Linked DNA regions of Homo sapiens. The protein of the gene in region 1 interacts with the protein of each later gene in a biochemical or structural test. Each region holds a gene or a part of one and is shown on either strand. Other genes may lie near its edges. The genes, in order: RAB24 and RBSN.

Region 1 (8,129 bases):
AAGGGCTGCAATAAATTTCCTTCTGGTTGAGCAGCAAGTGTCAGCCCTGTTTACAGTTAACACCTGATTCCTCAGAAATATCTGGATCTTCTTTGGGGAAAACTTGGGAGTTTGCTTCCCTTTGTGACCTAGTCCTGAACTTCCTGCCCTTTCAGCAAAAAGTGCTTGGGAAGATTGGGAAAAACATTTAGTACTAGAGTTACTCTTCACTTTCTTCACAATCCTTGGGCTGCATAGTAGTCACCTTATTTTACAGATGAGAAACTCAAGATGAGGATTTAAGTCCCTTTTCTAAATTAGCAGCTGAATTGGAACCAAATCTGGATCCATTAGACCTTTCTGGCTTACAGAACTTAGGACTTTCCTACCATTAAACCACATTGTAGGATGTCACTGGGAAGCTCAGGACCTGAGTCACAGGTCTGACATAGGGGCCCAAACATGACAGATGCAGTAGAGCTAGTCAGACCAACCTGTCTCAGGTAGGAATGCTTGACCCTTTTATTTCGAAGCAACTCATGCACTCTTTTCAGCACTCAGAAGGAACTGTGAGCTTTTATACTACTACAGCCCCAGTATCTCAGCGGTAACCATGGGGAAAAAAGTCTTGTTTTCCAAAGGAAAATGAGAGTTGGGAGGAGCCTTAATATAAGCAGTGAGGCCAGCCGGGTGGCCCCAGGAAGAACTAGGTGTCTTGACACCTAATCCACACAGCAGGGAAAGGGGCTGGGTGTGATGCACAGTGCACTGATTTTATTTACAGATCAAAAGCCACTTAAATAATCTGCAGACACAAGTGCTGTCCAGGGCAGAAGCCTGGGGTCCAAATCAGCCTTATCCCTCCTCATGCCCACAGTCAGCCCAATGCTGTCTCCGTTCCATGGGCCAGCACAGGCAGGCGCCACTCTGCTGACATGAGGACCTGGGGTAGCTCAGACATTTGACTACCCAAGCCCAGAAAGGAGCTGGGTCCAGCCCTTACGGGGAATTCCTTTAATTCCCCCAGGCCAGGTGAGTGCTGACTCAGTGATGACAACAGCTGTAGAAGTAGGGGTTTGGCTTCTGGCCCAGATCCACGCCCTTGTCCTCTGTCAAAAAGAGAGGTGGCAGCTCAGCACCATTCTGTTGGGATCAGGTAACTCAGGAAAGGGGCTAGATGCTGTGGGCCTAGAGTAAGTCTCCATAAAGGCTGGGGAAGCACACACCTGTCATCACCTGGAAGGCAGCCACACTGACGTAATCCTCTGCCACTTTCTGGAAGAGCTCGTCTGGCAGGAAAAATGATGATCAGCGAGGGCCCAATGCCAGTAGCCCTGGGATCTCCCAGTGACCCAGCCCTCTGTGCCCTATTCAGCTTCCTCTGGTGCCCCTGCATGTTCCTGCTGTGAGGCTCCAGCACAGCACTCACCCACACTCTGGCCTGTCTTGCTGGATGTTTCAAAGAGCTGAGCTTTGATATCTGTAAAGAGAAGTGACTAAAGCCTCATACCTGAGAATTAGATAAACAGACAAAAGGGAGGGCTAGCAGTTCAGGGAGTCTCCTGGACCCCACAGTTCAAGGAGGCCAGGAAGACCTCCTAGAGCACCTTGCCCTGGCAGCCAAGGCAGTCCCTATTTTCTTTGATCCACCCAGACAGCCACACACCCCCACCCCCCAAAGGGCTGAGGAGCAGCTACTGTCTGCATAGTCCTGGACGTCGTGGAAGTCCACACGTCGACGCCTCCGGTCTTCTTCCAGCAGGTCACTCTTGGTGCCACATAAGTAGATTTGGCAGCCCTGAGGCAGAAGACAAGGGTCACCTCCACAGGCCAACAAAACCCCAGCCCCTAGTGTTCTAGTGAGGTCTGTTCACCTACCTCCTCTAGGCTGCGCAGTTCCTTCACCCAGAACTTTGCTCGCTCAAAGCTGCTGCTGTCTGTGAGGTCTTGGTGTGCGGCATGCAGGAGACAACCAAGTGGTCAAGGGCTGTTCTCTGGCTAGCCTGGCACCCATCTTTTCTTGTGAGACAGCCCAAACCCCCCCCCCCCTTACCATAGCAGACGATGGCAGCCTTGGCACCCCGATAGTAGATTCTACTCATGGCCTCATAGCGCTCAGAGCCTGCTGTGTCCTAAAGAGTAAGGCCTGAGTCAAACTTAAGGCCACGTTCTCCAGACCCCGCTATTTTCCAGATAAGGAAACGGGTCTATGAGAAATGGGTCTGTGAGGCCACAAATCAACCAGTAATAGGCAGGACCTACACCTCCTCAGGAATGAGTCTCCCAAGAATAGATGGCCGGGGGACTTACCCAAATACCTAATGTCACAGTCCGGTCTCCGACCGACATCACCTTGGCCACGAAGGCGGCCCCGATGGTCTGCAACGAGAGGGAAGAGATCGGGGCCATAGGTGCAGATTACCGGCCCCCCACTCCCCCGCCCACCGTGCCTGGCCCCTCCGGATGCACTCACGTTCTGATAAGGCCCCACCAGAAAGCGGTCGTGCACGTAGCGCTCCACCAGGCTAGTCTTGCCCACGTACTCCTTGCCCAGCATCACCACCTTGACGTCCACGCGCTGCCCGCTCATGCTCCCGGGGCCGCTTCAGCCACGTCAGGGTCCTGAGCGGGGACGGGAGGCAAACCCCGATCTCCGCTCGGCCCAGGCAGCGCCCAAGCCTCAGACCCCGACCCCAAACGGCGCCAACCTACGACTCCAGACAGCGCGTCGGGCTCGAGCTCTGGCCGTGGCCTTGCACTTCGGCAGCGCCCCGTGTGCCCCCGCTGTTCGGCCCCGGGCGCCGATTATCCTTCGAAGACCCCAAGCCTCGGGGCGGCCTGGGAGCGCGCGGGACAGCGTCCTCAACAGCGCAGCACGCCGCCGTGCAGCTCGCTACTCCGTCATTCGCTCGCCTGCCCGGCTTAAGCTCCGTTCTGGCTGGGAATCCCAACCGAACCTGGGGTCTCCCGCAACCCGGCTCCTACCCGCAGCGCCGCGACTCCCGCGGGAGGGGGCTAGAGGGCGAGGGGGCGGGGCCGCAAGGTCACGTGGCGCGGGCGCCGGAAGCGGTGGCTACTGTGTGGCTGCGCCGGAAGTGGCGCGCGGCCGGACAACTCATGGCGGCGGCGGCGGCGGCGGCAGCTGCTTGGGCGCGGTGCGGTGGTGACTGAGCTACGAGCCTGGCGGCGGGTGTGCGCCGAGCCCCGGCCCGGCCCGGCCCTCGCGTGCCTCCCAGGCTCCGCACCCCTGATGCTGCGCGGGTGCTGAGCCCGCTTCGGCCGGGACGATGGTGAAGTATTTCCTGGGCCAGAGCGTGCTCCGGAGTTCCTGGGACCAAGTGTTCGCCGCCTTCTGGCAGCGGTACCCGAATCCCTATAGGTACGTGGTATTTGGAAGAGCAAAACCGCGCCATCTCGCTATCTGGAGATCGAATTATGGGTAACCCCCAAGTACTGGGACCAGGAAGGACTCGATATCGAATCCTAGGTAGACCTTATCGGGGAAGCGGCCAGGCCAGGCCTGCAAGGTCCTGAAGGGAGGTTGGGCCTGGGTGGTGGTTTACTTGAGACCTTAGTGTAAGATTCTTTTCTCAGTGTGGTGAGACAAGAAGAGGCGGCAGTATGGGAGTTGGGAGGGATCTTGGAGTTGGAAATCCTATTTCTCTGCCCGTGGCGCTTTCCTGGGGTGCAATAAATCATGAGGTCCATTCCTGCTAGAAGGCAGGAATCCAGGTCAGTCAGATGGCGGGAGTGGGAATTTGCCCTGGGATGGGCCCTTAACTCTGGTTTGAACCATAGCACATACCACCCTGCAAGGTTACGGGAAGGCGTGGCCTCTCTAGGCCCGGAGCCTCCAAATGGGAATCCCCTCGGGCAGTCTCTTAGGGGCAAGCTTCTGAGGGTCACCTTCACCCTGACACCTGCAGCAAACATGTCTTGACGGAAGACATAGTACACCGGGAGGTGACCCCTGACCAGAAACTGCTGTCCCGGCGACTCCTGACCAAGACCAACAGGATGCCACGCTGGGCCGAGCGACTATTTCCTGCCAATGTTGCTCACTCGGTGTACGTCCTGGAGGACTCTATTGTGGACCCACAGAATCAGACCATGACTACCTTCACCTGGAACATCAACCACGCCCGGCTGATGGTGAGACACCTCCTGTTGTGATTCTGCACCTCCCCCTCTCCCCTCCCCCCGAGATAGAGAGCTCCTCAGATACATGTGGCTAGAGAGCCATAAGGCAGCTTTTGTGGCCGGAGGCAGGTCTGGGTTACTGAGGGTTGACAGCTGTAGAGTATGACCTCAGGTTTTCTTCTTTTCAGCTGGCCATCCTCTCTGGACCTGTCCTTTGACTCATTCATACAGTGGGGGAGGGGTACCTATCTTACGGAGTTGTCCTAAGTTCTAAATGCAAAGCGCTCCCATCTGGCATCTATGGCACAGATATATGTTGGACTCACAGGAGTGATGCTGAGTGGCGGAGGCAGTGCTTTTCTTTTTTTTTTTTCTGTTTTTTGTTTTTTTCTGGTGACAAGAGTCTCACCCAGGTTGGAGTGTAGTGACATGATCTCACCTCACTGCCACTGCCACCTCCTGGGTTTAAGCAATTCTCGTGCCTCAGCCTTCTGAAGAGGTGGATTTCTAAGCACACACCACCACGCCTGGCTAATTTTTGTATTTTTAGTACAGACAAGGTTTTACCATGTTGGCCAGGCTGGTCTCGAACTCCTAACCTCAAGTGATCCGCCCGCCTCGGCCTCCCAAAGTGCTAAGATTACAGGCGTGAGCCACCGCGCCGGGCAAATGTTTTTATTTGGACTGTCAGGAAGCTCCAGAGCTGCAGCTGGTGGAAGGCGGCTAAAACACTGCATGCGTCTAGATGCACAAAACAAAATCCAGGAGCAGGATGGGCTGGAAGGCCCTTTGTTGATCTCAAGAGAGAGACCTTTTGCCTTCTAGTTTAAGAGTCAGAAGAGAGGTTTTCGAGAGCAAAACGACCTTATTTATGGCTTCTTGTTCTGTCAGTGCCACTTGGAGGTGCAGTCAGGGGAAGGAATGGATTTTCATTGTATTGCTTCGCCTCATGAAAAGTGACAGGGAGTCAGATTTATGTGCAAGTTGGCAAAATGAAAGACTGTTCCACGATTGTGGTTGGCCTCTGCATAGGTGGTGGAGGAACGATGTGTTTACTGTGTGAACTCTGACAACAGTGGCTGGACTGAAATCCGCCGGGAAGCCTGGGTCTCCTCTAGCTTATTTGGTGTCTCCAGAGCTGTCCAGGTGAGCAGTGTTGTTGGGGCTGCTGGGGCTCTGGGACCCAGTGCTTTCGGTGTTGGGGCTGGGCTGGGGTCAGTGGGCAACTCAGTATCCTTCCCATTCTCATCTCATGCCAGGAATTTGGTCTTGCCCGATTCAAAAGCAACGTGACCAAGACTATGAAGGGTTTTGAATATATCTTGGCTAAGCTGCAAGGTGAGTTTCTGGGTATGTGGATATTCCTCATAGGGAGAGGCTCATTCAGCCTAGCGGGCGTGGAGTCTGGGTTAGTCATTGCCCTGCTCTGAGCTGGGACTCCTTGTCTGTACTGGGGGTGGGAGGAGGGTGAATACCACCTTTTTAGTGGAGCCTGGCCCAGAGGAGATTGGTGTCATGGGGGAGGGAAATTAGGTTGGTCTTTCAGGCATCTTCTAAAGGCAGCCACCTGCCGTTCGCGACAGGCGAGGCCCCTTCCAAAACACTTGTTGAGACAGCCAAGGAAGCCAAGGAGAAGGCAAAGGAGACGGCACTGGCAGCTACAGAGAAGGCCAAGGACCTCGCCAGCAAGGCGGCCACCAAGAAGCAGCAGCAGCAGCAACAGTTTGTGTAGCCAGTCTACCACCACCACAGCACCCCAGACAGCTAGGCTTAGCCTCTCTGCCCTCCCTTCATTGTACTTTATCATTAAAAATCAACTTCCAGCCCTGTCTGCTGTCTACGTGGTGGGTTGTGGGGATGCAGTTTGGCATCTGCAGTACACCAAGCACATGATTCATGTCTGAGCCAGGTCTGCTTATTCTCCCATTGGGCAGCTGAGGACCGAGGCACAGAGGTGCGGTGACTTGCCCGGGGCTCCAGGTAGCCTGCAGGTTAACTGGCGGTAAGTGCTAGACTGTAAGCCCGACAAGGGCAGGGCTTTTGGTTTTGTTCTCTGATGTGTCTCAGTATCTAGCACATAATAGACACTCAATAAATACTTGTTGAATTCAGTTGGCCCCAGCTCTGGAGTCGGAAGGCTCTGGTTTGAATCTTGGCTTCACTGTTTTTGGACCTCAGGCGAGTCACGTCACTCAGCCTCATTTCTACCATCCGTGAAGTGGAGACAGAACAGCCTCAAGTTGTGAGAATTAAGTGCACTGCCTGGCACGGCCAACAGTGTCAGTGATGGGAACTGATATTATTTCCTCTTCCAGTGGGTCTGTGGTTGGGAGTTCCCCCGTTTTCATTAGGCAAGACTATGGACGGGAAGTTATGAAAGAGGCTTTTAATGAAAATACTGTACAGTTTATGTGAGGCAAAGGCAGGGGGCCTTGTCCAGGAAGGGAAGAGGCCCAAGAGGCTTCCTGTCCCCTTGGGGGCAGCAGAGCCAAATGCTTGGGCTCGGGCCCAAGCTGCCTGCCCTGCAGGGGTCCAGGGAGGTCCTGATGAGTCCTGCCCCTTCCCTTCCAGAGGGCCTGCCTGGCAGCCAGCAGCAGGGTGTTTGGGGAGCACCTGTTCCCACACAAGGGTCCTTTTAGTCCATTCCAACAGGTGACTCCGAGCAGCCCTGAAGGCTTGGGGAGGGCTCCTGCCTGGCAAGTGGGCCTGGCACGAGTAGAGGGCAGAGGCCCGCCCTGGGTGAGGAACATCATAGCCAGGCGCCGCCGCCGTGCGAGTAGCTGTGCTCCTGGCCGGCGACGAAGCCCCGCAGCAGCTCGGCCTCACCCCCAAACACCAGGCTCTCCACATCCACCTCCAGCTCCTCTGCGCGGGGAGGGGTCCGGTCAGAAGACCTGGCTCGCCCCGAGGGCCACACAACCCCTCAGCCTCGGGGCACTCACCTTGGTCTGAGTCTGAGCGCTCAGAGGAGAGGCCTGAGGAGTCCAGACTGTCCGCCCGCAGCCGCTCCCGCTCGGCCGCCCCTGCCAGCCCCCGGAGCTGCTCCAGCTGCCGCTGCAGGCTCTGCTGCTTGCTGCGCAGCCTCTCCTTGAGCTGTCGGGCCCGCTGCTCCTGATCCTCCAGCTTCTGCGGATCCCAAAGGAGCAAGGGGCTGGGGTCAGCGGCGTGGGGGCTTGGGCTGCACCCCAGCACCACTCAGTACCGGGCCACGGCCACAGGGCCAATGCCCACTCCGGGCAGGTGGCGACTAAATCCAGGCCCCAGAGGGTTGCACCCACATCCTCCAGAAAGCCAGCCCCTTTCCGGCCATGCACACGTCCTGTCAGGGTGCTGCCTAGATTGGGGGTGGGGGGGCACCACAATCTCAAAGGCATTTGGGGCCTAGTCAAGGATAAAGGACTGGAGTGCTGTGGCGTCCAGGGGTGGGAACTGGGAGCAGGGTGCACTGCTGCGTGTACACTCTGGCTCAGGAGCCAGGCATGTGCTGTCATGGGAAACAGGCCCGGTGTTACCAGGTCTCCCCGTTTCTTTTGTTTTTTGTTTTTTTTTTTTGAAACAGAGTCTCGCTCTGTCGCCCAGGCTGGAGTGCAGTGGCACAATCTCGGCTCACCACAACCTCCACCTCTTAAGTTCAAGCAATTCCCTAGTCTCGGCCTCACAAGTAGCTGGGACTACAGGGGCCCGCCACCATGCCCAGCTAATTTTTGTATTTTTAGTGGAGACGGGGTTTCACCATATTGGTCAGGCTGGTCTCAAACTCCTGACCTCAGGTAATCCGCCTGCCTCAGCCTCCTAAAGTGCTGAGATTATAGGTGTGAGCCACCGCGCCCGGCCCCCCATTTCTTTACGAGAAGCTAGCTGGAAAGTCAGATTTTTCATGTCAAATGTCTTTTGAGGGATTGACAGCTAATTTAAATTTTTAGAAAACTAGAGAACAAACAAAGGCTACCAGTCTGTAGCTCCTGGTCACGATCCCTACAAGAGCGAGAGCGTGAAGGCGTTAGCACCCT
Region 2 (7,264 bases), on another chromosome or scaffold:
TTTTCTTTCTTAGGGCTCCTCCTACTCCAGAGAGGAAACCTCATCCAGGGCCATGAAGCCACTTCCTCACCATCTGTGTGCTGCTTAAGCTAATGCTGCGGGAACCATGGTTCCTTGGGAGGAATCAAGCTGACTCTTGGCATGAGATTCCTGCCTTCCTAGGGTTGAGAGCGGCACTGCCATGGCTTCTCTGGACGACCCAGGGGAAGTGAGGGAGGGCTTCCTCTGCCCTCTGTGCCTGAAGGATCTGCAGTCTTTCTATCAGCTTCACTCACATTACGAGGAAGAACACTCAGGGGAAGACCGTGATGTCAAAGGGCAAATTAAAAGTAAGAGGCGAGGACCTTGCCTATCCCCTGCTGTCGTTGAGAGCTTTAACTCACGGGATAGTTCTCATCAGCTTTGGTGTTGCCACAGGAATATGATAATAGTAGTAGCAAACAGATGACTAGTGTTTGTCATGTGCCAGGCGTTTTCAGAGTTTCCCTGTTTATTAATTTCATTTAATCCTCACAATAACTGTGTGGCTGTAAGCCACATTTCGAACCAGACACAGAGAGATTAGATAACTTGTCTGAAGCCACTCAGAGAAACAATCTGACTTTGAGTCTAGTAAATGTAATTGCTGTGATCTGGCTTGACTGTTCTTTAACCACCAGCCTAACAGGGTTTGGAGAGGAATTTCTTTCCTTTGCTATGATGATGGAGGCACATTATGCACCCATTTTACCTGTCACAAATTTAAGACTTCCCACCATCCTTCCTTCCCCAATTGGTATCTTGCCCTCTATAGCCCAGAAAAAGGAAGGTCATAGTCGAAGAACAAAACAACCTAAAAACCTTGGTTTTTGAGCTTCCAAGAGCTCAGGTTTGAGAGAGTTGTGGAAAGAATTTTTCAAAGGTACTTTTCACTATACATATGTTTATTGTATTTCCTGGACATCAAATTCTAACCTCCAGATAAGATGCTGCTCCTCTGGGCGGGCACAGTGGCTCACGCCTCTATTCGCAGCACTTTGGGAGGCCAGAGTGGGCAGATCACTTGAGCTCAGGAGTTCAAGACCAGCCTGGGCAACATGGCGAAACCCCGTCTCACAAAAAAAATTAAAAAAAAAAACAACTAGCCGGGCGTGATGGTGCACGCCTGTAGTCCCAGCTACTCAGGAGACTGAGGTAGGAGGATCACTTGAGCCCAGGGAGGTCAAGGCTGTAGTGAGCGATGATCATGCCACTGCACTCGCACCTGGGCAACAGAGAGAGAGACACACACACACACAAACACACACACGCCAAAGATGCTGCTCCTCTGGAACTTATTTTGTAGTTATTCAGCTAACTTGCTTCTCACAGCTGGCAGCATTTCTGAAGGCCTTGAGATTAAAGAGTTCTGGATGTTGTATTCAAAGTCTTTATTGGGAGAGAAAGAAAGGAATGATCATGTATTTCTAAGTGGACTTCAGCTTTCAGACAGGTGAATCATATGCACTTTGTAATCAGATATTTGTCCCTAGAGTCTCACTCTATCTCACTTTTCTGTTCAGTAAAAAAGAGTTTCTAAAAGCATAAACAGTTATAACTTCTATCCAAAAACAACAAAGGCAAACATTTCTGAAATCCTGAGGGCTTTGGTGGATGAGGTGGCTTCTGGCTGTAGAGGCTATAGAACAGAGCCAAAACTATTAGGAGGGAAAAAAATGCTGTGCTTTATAGTTTTTAGAGTTTCTTTCACAGACATTATTGTTTCATCTGACTCTCCTAACAACTCTGCAAGAAGGTGATTGGTCTCATTTTACAGATAGTAAGTGAAGTGAGGCTCAAGAGATGTTGAGTTACTTATCCACGGTCACACAGGAATTGGCAGAGCTAGGCCTGGAACGTAGGTCTTCTGTCATCTGTAAATCCAGTGCTGCCCTTTGCACGTGACATCACTGAGGGTGAGAGGCCCCGTGTTCCAATCACAACATGCATTGCAGCTTCCTGGGGGAAATGAAGCAAAAACAAAACTAAAAAACCTGATTATGTAAGTTTCCTTTGGACAACCGAAGAGCTTCCATCATTTTCAACTAGCTTCCAGTCTTGGTGTCAGCTGAACTAAGTCCTATACAATGCCATTGCTCAACCTGGTGATACCAGTGGGTAGAGAGGTTAGAGAATGTTCCCGGATTCCTACAGTGACCCTTTTTTAAGAGGAAAAATGTTTAAGGTTATTTAGAGAATACAGATATGGGAATCTATTTAAGGAATACTAAATAGAATAGAAATTTTGTGCCTTGTGAAAGAAACTTGAAAGGATCCTTGGCTGGGCACAGTGGCTCACATCTGTAATCCCAGCACTTTGGGAGGCCATGGCGGGAGGATCGCTTCAGCTTAGGAGTTTGATACCAGCCTGGGCAACATAGATCCTGTCCAAAAATAAAAAAAAATTTTTTTTAATTAGCTGGGCATGATGACATGCATTTGTAGTCCTAGCCACTTGGAAGGCTGAGGCAGAAGGATCCCTTGAGCCCGGAAGGTTGAAGCTGCAGTGAGCCATGATTATGCCACTGCACTCCAGCCTGGGCAGCAGAGTGAAACTCTGACTCAAAAACAAAAAAACAAAATAAAGTTACTTCAGCCGGGTGCGGTGGCTCATGCCTGTAATTCTAGTACTTTGGGAGGCCAAGGCAGGAGGATTGCTTGAGCCCAGGAGACCAGACTGGGCAACATAGCGAGACCATTTCTACAAAAAAATCATTTAAAAAAATTAGCCAGTCATAGTGGCACGCACTCGTAGTCCCAATTACCCAGGAGGCTGAGGTGGGAGGATCGCTTCAGCTCAGGAGATCAAGGCTGTTACATTCTAGCCTGAGCAACAGAGTGAAACTGTCTCAAAAAAAAGAAAGAAAAGATCCTCTTGGTTTTTCCCTTTATTTCCCACCCTGCCTTACCCCCGACATCTCTACCTCTAGTACTATTAATGATCATGTCTTTAGTTAGAAAGGAATTCTTGATTATGTTGCAGTTTTCTGCATTTCAGAATCAGGAAAGTAAAGTTTTAAGGATTGACATGAAAGGTTTTTTGAAAAGCCCTTTAGAAAGCAGATTACGTCTCCATTTGGTCTTTTGATTCTTAGAAATGTTATGACATGGTTAGTTTTGGGCAAGTGAAAAGTTAAAGCCAAAAGAGTGAACCTTAGTATTAGGTTTTGGGGGCAGTTCAAAAAAGAAAAGATAGATTAGTCATTAGTAAAAAGTTAGTGGGTTCGGGGCCCAGTCCTGGTTCAGCTCCAGTCTAGCCCATTTTCAGTAAGTAGAAGAAAAGATAGCTGAAAATTGACTGTGGCTTCTTGCTTTGTTAGTGTTTTTTAAAATATATGGGATTATTTTTAATTGGCCTTCTCTGGAAGGGCTATGTCCTTTCTGGGAACATTGCCAGGCAGTTTTTCTATCTCCTAAAAGTGGTTAAATGGTATAGATTGCCTGTTTAACCTGATACTTTAGTCTTGTTTGCAAAAATGAATTGTTACTTGCTAACTCACATTCCTGTTTGCTAGACCCTTTGTTCACATCAGGCAGTTTTCTCTCCCCTGTTACTAGAAAAGACTGCTTTAGGCCAGGGACAGTGGCTCATGCCTGCAATCCCAGCACTTTGGGAGGCCGAGGTGGGCAGATCATCTGAGGCCAGGAGTTTAAGACCAGCCTGGCCAATGTGGTGAAACCCCATCTCTACTAAAAAAAATACAAAAATTAGCTGGGTGTGTTGGCACGTGCCTGTAATTTCAGCTACTCGGGAGGCTGAGGCAGGAGCATCCCTTGAACCCCTGGAAGGCAGAGGTTGCAGTGAGCTGAGATTGCTGCCATTGCATTCCAGCTTGGGCAACAAGAGTGAAACTCTGTCTCAAAAAAAAACAAACAAACAAACAAAAAAAACCCACTTTAGTGCATTTTAAAGGATGTCCTTTTGTTTTAGTATTTTTCCAGTTTGGACAAAGCTGTCCCACAGTGACCAATAATCAGGAAGTTTGCTTATTGGCTTGACCGTCTTAAAAAAAAAAAAAGACAAGTGTATTCTTATCAATCTCACCCTCAGCCTGCGAACCTGGGCAACATCTCTACAAAAAAATGTTTTATAAAATAATTTACCTAGTCATGGTGGCGCACACCTATAGTCCCAGCTACTTGAGAGACTGAGGCGAGAGGATCGCTTGAGCCCAAGAGATCAAGGCTGCAGTGAGCTATGATCAGCCACTGCACTCCAGCCTGGGTGACAGAGCAAGACCCTGTCTCTAAAAAATAAATAATTAAAAAGTAAAAGTAATGATACCATTTTATATTCAGTCTGATATTTTCTACTAGATTCTGGTGGAAGAAAGGGATAGCAGTCATCCAAGATTAAAGAACATTCATGAGAGAGCGTCTTAGAACTGAGAATTCTTCCCGCCCCACACCAGCTGATTGTTCAGTTTAACAGGTGGTTCTCTGCACCAGCACAGGTGGCAGAACCCATGTTCTGCAGAGGCATAGTTTGTGAATCAGGACTAGCGGGGGAGAGCTGGAGCTCTCATTTCAGGCACATGAGGTGTCTACTTCCAGCCCTGCTGTTACCTGTAAGCTCTGTGATCTTGGGTGAAGCAAGTTCTTCCCTGTCTTTGATGTCGTTTCCTCATTTGTAAGTAGGGCTATCACCTGCCTTATAACATTGTAAGCATGAACTGGCATAATGTATTTGCAAGCACTTTGCGTTGTACCTGGTACATACGATGGCTAAATACAGGAAATGTTCATTTTCTCTTCTTACCCAATCTGGTTCTGTTTGTGTTATGTTGTAGATGTTATATCTGTTTCTTGAAGCTTTTTGCAAGTATTCTCACATGCATTCAATAAGTGCGTGGGCAGTAGTGGGGAAGCAAGAACTCTGTGTCCAGTTAAGCCTATGGGGAACACCAGTCCACGGATGGAGGTTTAGCTGAATCCCATCCTGGAGGTAAATGAGAAGAATTTACTCATGAGTTTCTGGGGTAAATGAATTAGTACTATAGAACTTGTTTTTTAAAAAACATTATTTTAACTGAGGTATAGTTTTAATTTTTTTTTTTTTTTTTTTTTTTTTTTGAGACAGGGTCTCATTCTGGTTGTCCAGGCTGGAGTACAGTGGCACAATCTCAGCTCACTGCAGCCTCGACCTCCTGGGCTCAGGTGATTCTCCCACCTCAGCCTCCCAAGTAGCTGGGACTACAGGTGCATGCCACAACACCCAGCTAGTTTTTTGTATTTTTAGTAGAGATGGGGTTTTGTCATGTTGCCCAGGCTGGCTTGAATTCCTGGACTCAAGCAATTTGCCTCCCTTGTGGGATTACAGGTGTGAGCCACTGCGCCTGGCCCAATTCAAAAAGTTTTCAAAAATGTATATACCCACTTCACCACCACTCCAATTAAGATAAAGAAGAAAACACTTCCATCACCCTGTTTTCCTCATCAAATTTGATTTTAGCACTTTTATTTAATTGTGCTCTTAAATTTGGCAATGAGCAGTAATTTAGCCCATATGTTGGCCGCCTAAACCAATTTAATGCTAATATTGATTAACTAGTGTATTGCTCTGTGGTATTTGTAATATAGTGTTTGTGTGCTTGCTCCTGCATTTTACTTGAGATCTAAATATTTCTGGTGCATTTTTAAACAAACGATAATTATTTCGTCAACTCTTGTTTTTTGAGATTTCTTTTGACTGTTTACTGGGTGTTCTTCATGGCTCATTTGTATTATTTGTTCCATTTTTCAAGGTCTTGTCCAGAAGGCTAAAAAAGCAAAGGACAGGTTGTTGAAACGAGAAGGGGATGATCGAGCAGAGTCAGGGACCCAAGGATATGAGTCTTTCAGCTATGGAGGGGTTGATCCTTACATGTGGGAACCCCAGGAGCTTGGTAAGAAAATTCATTTATTCATTCAGCAAGTGGTTATTGAGCATCTGCTATGTTCTAGGTAAAGTTTTAAGAGTTGGCTGAGGAGGCATCAGTAAACCATAATGGTCTAAGCTTCTCATGGACCTTATGCCCTTGCTGGGGGAAGAAAATGGAAGAGAACCAGCTGAGCATCCACTTTGTGTTAGGCACTACATTAAGTGCCTTATACCCATGGTCTTGTTAGATCTTCACTGCACCTCATGAGAACCTGCCCAGGGACAAACAGTGAGTAAACTGCAGAAGTAGGGTATGAATCCATATCTCTCTGACGTCAGCCCAGGCATAGAGTCCATTAATGATTCTTTCCTCTCACATAGGACATTACCTGCCCAGTGACAGGCACTGGTTTATGCAGCTTACTTTTTTGAATAATTATAGTAACATCTACCTACTTTCATGTTTTTGGGATGATAAAAATTCTCTAACATTTATTATGATGATTGTACAACTCTGAAAATCCTAAGCTGGGCGCGGTGGCTCACACCTGTAATCCCAGCACTTTGGGAGGCCGAGGCGGGCAGATCACGAGGTCAGGAGATCCAGACCACGGTGAAACCCCGTCTCTACTAAAAATACAAAAAATTAGCCGGGCGTGGTGGCGGGCGCCTGTAGTCCCAGCTGCTCAGGAGGCTGAGGCAGGAGAATGGCGTGAACCCAGGAAGCAGAGCTTGCAGTGAGCTGAGATCGTGCCACTGCACTCCAGCCTGGGTGACAGAGTGAGACTCTGTCTCAAGAAAAAAAAAAAAGAAAAGAAAATCCTAAAAACCACTGAATTTGCTTTAAATGGTGTATGTATGTGAATTATATCTCAATAAAGCTATTTATCATGCCAGTCACACTTAGTTGAACTATCTAATCTTACATATCTGTTTTTTTTTTTTGTTTTTTTTTTTTTTTTTTTTTGGAGATGGAGTCTCACTGTGTCACCCAGGCTGGAGTCCAGGGCTCCGTCATGGCTCACTGCATTCCAGGCTCAAGTGATCTCTCACTTCAGCCTCCTCAGTAGCTAAGACTACTGGTGCACACCATCCATCACACCTGGCTAATTTTTGTATTTTTTGTAGAAACAGGGTCCTATGTTGGCCAGGCTGGTCTTGAACTCCTGGGCTCAAGTGATCCTCCCATCTCAGCCTCCCAGAGTGCCAGGATTACAGGTGTGAGCCACTACGCCTGCCTACATATCCTTTAACCGTCTAATGATAACAGTCATTAATATAATAAAATATTTTCTGTCCATGAAATGGGTAATTATTCCTTTATTTATTTATCATTCCCTTGTGATTTATTCAATTTTCATGTTTATGATCTTGTTCACCTTTCAC

The links.
Region 2: the proteins of RAB24 (region 1) and RBSN form a complex in vitro, tested with the Homo sapiens proteins (one study listed by BioGRID).

What each region holds. Positions count from the first base shown.
Region 1 is NC_000005.10:177,300,720-177,308,848, forward strand, and holds RAB24 (ras-related protein Rab-24), read right to left. Parts: upstream 3,001-8,129; 5' UTR 2,570-3,000; coding exon 2,453-2,569; intron 2,359-2,452; coding exon 2,290-2,358; intron 2,112-2,289; coding exon 2,033-2,111; intron 1,926-2,032; coding exon 1,858-1,925; intron 1,778-1,857; coding exon 1,678-1,777; exon of another isoform or gene 1,460-1,677; coding exon 1,409-1,459; intron 1,269-1,408; coding exon 1,206-1,268; intron 1,089-1,205; coding exon 1,024-1,088; 3' UTR 479-1,023; downstream 1-478. Other genes in the region: PRELID1 (PRELI domain-containing protein 1, mitochondrial isoform 1 precursor), read left to right, coding at 3,267-3,358, 3,906-4,131, 5,152-5,265, 5,379-5,457, 5,703-5,851; MXD3 (max dimerization protein 3), read right to left, coding at 6,869-6,984, 7,062-7,245.
Region 2 is NC_000003.12:15,089,038-15,096,301, reverse strand, and holds part of RBSN (rabenosyn-5), read left to right. Parts: intron 1-13; 5' UTR 14-181; coding exon 182-329; exon of another isoform or gene 330-631; intron 632-4,808; exon of another isoform or gene 4,809-4,963; intron 4,964-5,762; coding exon 5,763-5,903; exon of another isoform or gene 5,904-6,142; coding exon of another isoform or gene 6,143-6,167; intron 6,168-7,264. UniProt on the Homo sapiens protein: Rab4/Rab5 effector protein acting in early endocytic membrane fusion and membrane trafficking of recycling endosomes. Required for endosome fusion either homotypically or with clathrin coated vesicles.